Linked DNA regions of Homo sapiens. The protein of the gene in region 2 purifies or fractionates together with the protein of the main gene of each other region. This does not show direct contact. Each region holds a gene or a part of one and is shown on either strand. Other genes may lie near its edges. The genes, in order: TPD52 and ZNF133.

What was found.
Region 1: the proteins of ZNF133 (region 2) and TPD52 purify together in Homo sapiens (affinity purification with mass spectrometry; one large-scale study listed by BioGRID and IntAct). This does not show direct contact.

Annotation. Positions count from the first base shown.
Region 1 is NC_000008.11:80,052,772-80,056,584, reverse strand, and holds part of TPD52 (tumor protein D52), read left to right. Parts: intron 1-3,154; coding exon 3,155-3,303; intron 3,304-3,813. Other genes in the region: TPD52-MRPS28 protein, read left to right, coding at 3,155-3,303.
Region 2 is NC_000020.11:18,286,997-18,291,582, reverse strand, and holds the start of ZNF133 (zinc finger protein 133), read right to left. Parts: upstream 3,057-4,586; 5' UTR 2,979-3,056; intron 1,685-2,978; exon of another isoform or gene 1,509-1,684; intron 1-1,508. UniProt on the Homo sapiens protein: May be involved in transcriptional regulation as a repressor.

The DNA.
Region 1 (3,813 bases), on a different chromosome or scaffold from region 2:
TTGGTCATTTGTATATCTTGGGAGAAATGTCTATTTAAGTCCTTTGCCCATTTTCTAATTGGATTGTCTTTTTATTGAGTTGTAAGTTTCTTTATATGTTCTAGATACTAGACTCTTATTAGGTATGTAATTTGCCAATATTTTCCCCATTCTGTTGGTTGTCTTTTACTTTCATGACAGTGTCGTTTGAAGCACAACCTGTAGGCATCCTCCCTTTCCCAACCTCTAACACCCACAATTTTACTCTCTACTTAGATGGGTTCAGAGTTTTTTCTTGGCGTCCACATGTGAGTAAGAACATGCAGTATTTATCTTTCTGTGCCTGATTTATTCTGCTTAACGTATTGTTCTCTAGGCTCATCCATGTTGCTGCAAATTACAGGATTTCATTCTTTTTTATGGCAGAATTGTATTCCATTGTGTATACCACATTTTCTTTATCCATTCACCTGTTGATGGACACTTGGGTATTGTAAATAGTGCTGCAATAAACGTGGGGGTGTAGGTACCCTTTGATACACTGATTTCCTTTCCTTTGGATAAGTAACCCAGTAGTGGGATTGCTGGATTATGTGGTATTTCTATTTTAAGTTTTTCTGAGAAACCTCCATACTGTTTTTCATAGTGGCTGTACTAATTTATATTCCCAGCAACAGTGTATAAGAGTTTCATCTTCTCTGGATCCTTGCCAGCATCTGTTATTTTTTGGTTTTTTGATAACAGGCATAATAACAGGTGTGAGGTGATACCTCATTTTGATTTTGATTTGCATTTCCCTGATGATTAGTGATGTTGAGCATTTTTAATATATTTGTTGGCCATTTATATGTCTCTTCTGAGAAATGTCTATTTAGATCCTTTGCCCACTTTTTAAATGGGATTGCTTGTTTGTTTTGTTGTTGAATTGAGTTCCTTGTATATTTTGGATATTAGTCCCTTGTCAGATGAATAGTTTGCAAATGTTCTCTCCCATTCTACAGGTTATCTCTTCACTCTGTTGATGATTTCCTTGAATTTAGTCCCATTTGTCTATTTTTGTTTTTGTTGCCTGTGTTTCTGAGGTCTTAGCCATAAAATCTTTGTCTAGACCAATGCCCTGAAGTGTTTCTCCTATGTTTTCTTCTAGTAGTTTTATGGTTTTGGGTCCTTAGTCCATTTTGAGTTGATCTTTGTATATAGTGATAGACACATCAGAGATTCTTAATCATGCTCTTTATGCTTTTAAAGTCACTCTGTTTTACATGTATATATTGAATTAAGGAATCGCAGCCATGATGTGCTGGGCTAGGTGTGTTAGCAGCACAAGCTAACCAACAAAGGTGGGGAATATACTGTGTTGTGCATTGTTCAGAAAGATTTAGAGTGGTTTGTCTTTGCAGCTTTCATTAGAGGAAGTGAGTACCTCAGAGAAGTGCTAAGGGGTGGGAAACTTACCATTTAAGTCTATTCTTAGAAGTGTCTGAAGCTTTGGAGCCTGAAGTAGAGACAGAGGAAGTGGGAAGCTTAAGAGAGTGTACATGAGAATTCAGCCAGTAAACTGAGACGTGCATTCAGAAAACCTAGATAGGAATTCTGGTTCCTACATTATTTGTTTGATGACTTTGGGCAAATCATTTAATTTACTTAATTTTGAACCTTATTCTTTCCTCTTTTTTTGTCCTTTTCTTCTCGTATTCCACTTCGTCAATGTACATCTTAAAATGTGACTTACAAAACTGGGTCCAGTACTTGTGACTCTGACAAGCACAGGGGATTATTTATTTGTTCTGAGGGACCTCTGTTCCAGTTAATCTTATCTGAGAGTGGTGTTGTAGGTTCTTTTTCTTCTTTTTTTTTTTTTCTTGGCAGCTGCATCACATTTGATTTATCCTTTTCTCCGTTGCACTAATTTTCTTTGTTTTGTGTTCTCTAAAGACTTAAACATCTGTGAAAACATTTGACTGAGCAATACTCTATGTTATTTTTAAAGGGCATGTTGTCTTTGAAATCATAGAAATACCGTGCAGGTTGGGGCTGAAAATATGGCTTTGCAACAAGCCAGGAGACGCATTTCTCTGAGGGTCTTGAATGTTAATGGATATACTTTAGGGACCTAGATTTTCAATTTCCTGGGACCTAAAGTCTCTTCCACATGGTGTCTATTTCTCTCTGAAATAGGCAGTCCACCCTTTTCCCTGTTTCTGAAATAGAGAGTCTACCATTTTCCCTGTTTTCCTGGATTAGCCTTTTGTTCTACTCTGTCCATTTTTTCCTTTTCTTCATAGCTTCTGCTTACAGTTTTAGATTCCTCAAGCATATTTAAGCTTTCCATACCTCTCATAATCTCACTGTAGCCTACCTATACCTCAAGGCTTCTTCAAGTTTTTTCAGCTTCTACTTGCAATGTCATCTCACTTCTCAAACTAGATTCCTGAGTGAGAGAGACGAATAGTTGAGCACCTCTTTTCACACTGGGCTCATCCACTGGCTCTTGATGGGTGGCTGTCCATGGGTCAGGGCCCACCTCTAACCACCTAGTCAAGTCTGGGCAGTCAGCATCAAGGGGTTCACATGAAACCCTTGAGAGCAGGGATCTCCTGAGGAGGCGGTTTGATTTATTATGGCCATGACTTTGCCAGACACAGGGACTGAGTATATGTATCCAGTATATATACTCATATCAAATATGCAAGGAGATTGGATTTGGGTTTGGCTTGGTTGTGTGTGTTTTGGTAGGGGATGGAGATTATTTTGATTTAGTATACAAATACAAGTTTTGTAGGCATTCAGATAGAAATGTCTAGGCTGGGAAGGCAGACCCACAGGTCGGGAGAGTGGATGTTAGAGTGCTTTATTAAGTATTATCTGTGTAGAAATTTGAGTCCTAAACCTACATGAGATAGCTGAGTAAGGAAGTATAGGGAGAGAGGAGAAGGCCAAAAACAGCTTAAGATGGGATTATAAAGAGCTCCCATGGAGGAGGAAAGAGAACTCTACAGGAGAGATCAGCAAGTAACCAGTTTACTCAACAACATTATACATTGTTTTTAGAGAGAAAGATAAATGATTCAAAAAAATGTTTAATGACTGGAATTTTGGATGTAGTTCTGTGGTAATAATCTTAACTTACTGAATGACTTTTGCTATATTCTTACCCCAAACCCCTTCCTCATAGGTAGAAGAAGAAATCCAGACTCTGTCTCAAGTGTTAGCAGCAAAAGAGAAGCATCTAGCAGAGATCAAGCGGAAACTTGGAATCAATTCTCTACAGGAACTAAAACAGAACATTGCCAAAGGGTGGCAAGACGTGACAGCAACATCTGCGTATGTTTCCTTGATCATACACTTTCCTTGGGAGTGTAAAGGACACTGTTGTGCCTTTTGTCTGGAGAGGGGAAGAAAAAGAGGATAAGGATGCTTCAGCAGCTTTTCTTTGGACGACACGGCACCCTTTTTTTCTGATTTTCAAGTGTGCCTGCCTTTTTTTGTAACTTCAATTTTTCCAGACCACTTATTCTAAGGAATAGAAAGAAAGCTAGCCAGTTGGAGAAATAAAATTCAAATCCCATAAGTGTTATGTATTGACTTGCCACAAATATGTACATTTTGTCCTTTAGTACTCAGAATAACCCAGTAAGAATGGGTGGCAAGATAACCCTGGATAAGGAAACAGGCTCAGACAAATTAAGTTTTCATGTCACAAACCTCTCAAAATGTGGAGTGGGAATTCAAACTCAGGTCTGGAGCCAGTCTTTATTATTATTATTAATGTATTTTTTTAACCTTGTTGTGTAGGTATCAAAAGATTCTCAGGTCGTAGTCTCAGATATATGC
Region 2 (4,586 bases):
GTATAGCTGAAGAAGACAGGAGGTCTAAGAACTGAAGCAGGGCCTTTTCCACGGTGGAAATTTGGGAGGGAAGGAAGAGCCAGTAAAGGAGACAGAGGAGGAGCAGGCTATGAGTTAGGAGGAAAACCAGGAAGACCTAGTACCAAGAGCAACTGTGTGAAAGGATATATTAAGAAGGAGGATGTAAACAATTACATCAAATGTTGCTGAGAACTGATTGTGGCCTTTAGTCAAGGAGACCATTGGTAACCCTGACAAGAATATTTTTTGGTGTCACTTGAAAAAGCCTTACTAAAATATTCGAAACATAACAGAAGGATAGCAACGCAGACAACAAACATAGATAATTCTTTCAAGGAGTTCAGCTCTAAATGGGAGGAAAGACAAGGCAAGAAGGTGAAGAAGAGACAGGAAGCTAGGGCAGTGCAGAAATGGAGACAAAGGGAAAGAAAAGGAATCGAGAAGAATGCACAGGTGGAATAGGAGGATACAACTTTTGTTTTGTTTTGAGGTGGAGTCTTGCTCTGTTGCCCAGGCGACAGATTCTCCTGCCTCAGCCTCCTGAATAGCTGGGATTATTGGTGTGTGCCACCACGCCTGGCTAATTTTTGTATTTTTAGTAGAGATGGGGTTTCACCATGTTGGCCAGGCTGGTCTCGAACTCCTGACCTCAGGTGATCTGCCCGCTCTGGCCCCCCAAAGTGCTGATTACAGGTGTGAGCCACTGTGCCCGGCCAGGAGGACACAACTTCTAATGGGAAGTAAGTTTGGAAACAAGGATGCAAGGAAAACTCAGAGGTCCAGCTTATATCAAGTTATAAGGCTGTCAACACAGATCAGCAAGATCAGAAGAAATAGGAGGAGAAATGAGGCAGAGATAGGGAAAACTGGGATGCTGTTTCCAGATACTTTTCCCTCTCCTGCCTCTGACCAGGGCTGTTCTGACTGGTGGAAAAAAAAGATTTTTTTTTTAACAATGGGGGAAAACAATATGGGCTAGATATTAAATGATATTAATAAGTTATTAATTTTGTTGGGTATAACAAAATATAATTGTAACAATGTAACTGTATAACAATGAAATTGTGGTTATGTTAAAAAAAGAAGTCCTTATGTGTTAGAGATGCCTCCTGAAGTGTTCCCAGGTGAAATGATATAACTGGGATTTGCTGCCAAAACTCTAGCAGGGAAAAGAGTAAGTGAGAGTATTGGAAGACAGAAGAACAGAATGTTAACAACTTCACAGGACCTGACAAGCCCTGGGAATGAGCAGTCTGAACAAATACTGAAAGAAGGAATGTAGGGGAAGAATATAGGTGTAATGAATGAGAGCATCAGCTCTGAAAAATATTCCCTGTGAAAATGATCACTCTTAAAACAAGCCTAGTTTCCTGAAGGAACCAGCTGGGGCCCTGATCCCTGGATGGGACATTGTAGAACACAGACGTCAAAGCTGAGCAAAAGAAACCCACTCATGGTTCGAAATGCAAAAGGTAAGTGGCACCCACCTGAAGCTGGGCTGTCAGGAGCTCAGGAGTACCCCCTTTCCCCAGCAGGCAGTCCTCTCTGGGCAGACAGGAGCCACAGGGAGGCAGAACAAGAACAAAAAGCGTTCAAGAAAATCAAGGGAAATCCTCTCCAGCAGGGCAGTACCTCCTATTCCTTAACAGCATCAGGAATGAACCTGCCACAGAAGAAAAGGAGAAAAGAACTGCGGGCAGCTTCCTGGGAACACAGCTGGGGTACAGGTTGAAAGCACGACCTGCCCTGATATGCTGTTGACGCTGAGCATGAAGCGACCTTCTCTGTGCCTGTTATTAATGAAAGGTAATATTCACTGAACACTTAGTATACACCAGAGACTGTTACAGCCACTGTAGGAGTTTCACCTCATTCTATCCTTTCAACAACCCAATACGATAGATGCTATTATCCTCTTTAGGATAAAATCGAGGAAACTGAGGTACAGTGAAGTCAGCATCTTGCCCAAGGTGACACAGCTATAAAGTGACAGAGCCTAGAGGAAATGTGGCTGTGGAGACCGTGCTCTTACACAGTAAGGGCAGTGACGGTGAACTCTGGATTGCAAGGATTCTCTGTGTCCATTCTGAGATGAATCAAGATTGGTCATAAGGTTTTAAGTGTTGAATCTGGGTGATGGAGATCTGGTCTATAGAGTTCTATCTACTTCTGGCTGTTTGAAATTTCTCCGCAATAAAAACTTAAATGGAATGTAAAATCCCAAAGCCTGGCCACACCAGGGGCCTGGGAATCCGTAATTCTTGCGATCAATGACGGTCCCTGGGACCTTTGGAAAAAACCTGTCCTGTGCGTCCCAGCCAGACTTCCTCCTCCAACGCCCGAACCCGGGGGTGACCAACCAAAGTGAAACCCTAAGATCGCGGCAAAATGGCCACCCCAGATCCAGTCTAACCTTGGCTTGTTTGGTCAAGCCAGACCGCTCCTCATTCCACTCCAGCAAAGCCGAAGAATAGTGTGGCCCCAAGAGACTAGCCCTCAACCGACCAATGCCTCGGGGACACATGGCCCCAGGGATGGTTCCCATTCCACCACCTGGGAAATACCATTCCCCCAAAAAGCTTATTTATTCAACTCCCCCAAAACCGGGGACTTATGGCATCAGCGACTCCCTTTCCCAATACCCGACTTCAGCCAAAGCCGAACCTGTCCCCACCCACAAGAACCCTAGGAGAGAGAGCCCGATCCCCCACTCATCACCATCCAGTTTCACGGATGGGCTTCACCCAACTCCCCTGGAGATGCACGCCCACACCCCCAAAATAAGACATCTGGGAGAGGACGGCCTGCGCCACGCCAGCGCGTTCCCACCACAATCACCACCCCCGCGCCACCCGCACGGTCCCCAAATTCAGCCCATAGTCCAGCCTTTCGGGACCTTCCTTTTCGCGCAGAAAAGGGTACGGCTGCGGCAAGGGTCCCGCGGGAGCCTCACTCACCAGCGCCACCAAAGAACAAGGGGTCGCTCCAGCCACCAGCTGGGGAGCTCCTCCAGCGGGGCGCCAGGACTACACTACCCCGAATCCTCGGCACAGCGCCCGGACCACACCTCCCAGGATGCTCGGCGCCACCAGGCGCGCCCTGAAGGCCGGCAGCTCCCATTGGCCTCTGACGGATCCGTTTCTGAGTAACACGCTCCGGTCACCGGAGAATGGCCACTGTGGCACCTGAATTCTCCCTCTTTTTTCTTAACCACGTGCATAAAACACGTAGGAGCTCCCGAGAAGAGTGCCTGGCCCTACTGTGACCCTCCTTCTGAGCGCCTCTGTCTCGAAAACTACACTTCCCAGTGACCCCTGGAGCGACTTCCGCACCCGGTACCGGCCCCGCCCCTTGGCGCGCGGAAATGACGTTTCGGGGCGCATCTGTTCGGCTTCTGGGGTTGGCGGAGGTGTACCGCTGGCTGACCAAGCTTGTTCAGGTGCTGGTTTGTGTTGCAGCGGCCTGTGGTCTCCCTGGCTCCAGCCGCCTGCTTGGAAAGTCACGCCCCATATTCCTAAACACCGGGCGAACGTCATGTCGTATACCCTTTAGCTCCATTTAAAGCCTTGAAAAGGCCGAGCAGTCTGCCTGAAGTCTCACATCCCGTACGAGGTAGACCCGATTCTGAGCCCACGCCCTCAACCCGAATACACCTTTTCCGGTGCCCTGAGACCTTTTTCTTCTTTTTGAAATCCACGAAGTTATTGTTAAACTCTCATCTCCTGAGAAGCAGAAGCCTCAGTCTCGGGCCAGAGCTTGGCCTGCCGTCGGCTTGGATCTCTAGGTCTTTGTCCGGGATCCTGGTTGAGAACAAGATTGCGCTGGTGCCATCTGGGACGCCCCATCTGGGGAGCTCGAGGGGAAGGCCCACGTCACTCTTGAGAGGGCTTTTCCACCCGTGCACCCTCTCACTGCCCTTCACCTTCCTCAGATAGGCTTTCTGAAACTTTGTCATTCTCTTGGAAGACCAAGAAAATGACCACTGTCTGAAGGGCCAGGGAGATGAGAATTTCCTAAAATTCTTTTGTAGCTCTCAGAGGGTGAATCCATTCCCTTCTGGTACCCCGAGGCTACATTATTTATTGTGAATTCAGTTCAGTCCTGGCTCCGGAGACATGTCCAGTGTCAATTGGATTCATCCCTCAACATCATTCTCTGCCTCATGAGTCAGTCATCACCAAGAAATTAGTTGTTAATACACATAAAGGTTCAGAACAACAATGCAGGGATGCCTGTGTTCAAGTGTTCACTTGTGCTGGCTGTACAATAAAGACACAGATGGCTGACATCTCTTAAGCCTGGAAATGAAGACTTACAGGATGAGGTGCTGCCTGAGGAATTAGGCAAGATGAGGAGTTGGAAGAACACAGACGAGTAAGGAAGAGTGTAGGAAGTGTGAACAGAATCTCAGGGTCTGAGCCACTGGGTGGACTGTCATGACCACAGTGAGATTTTCAGCAGCACGTGGTCTTGCAGCCAGCTGACTTGCATATAGACAGGGATGCTAGATGTCCACCGTCTAGATGTACAGCTCTGTCATACAGATATTTGGTGTGTCCAGCCTC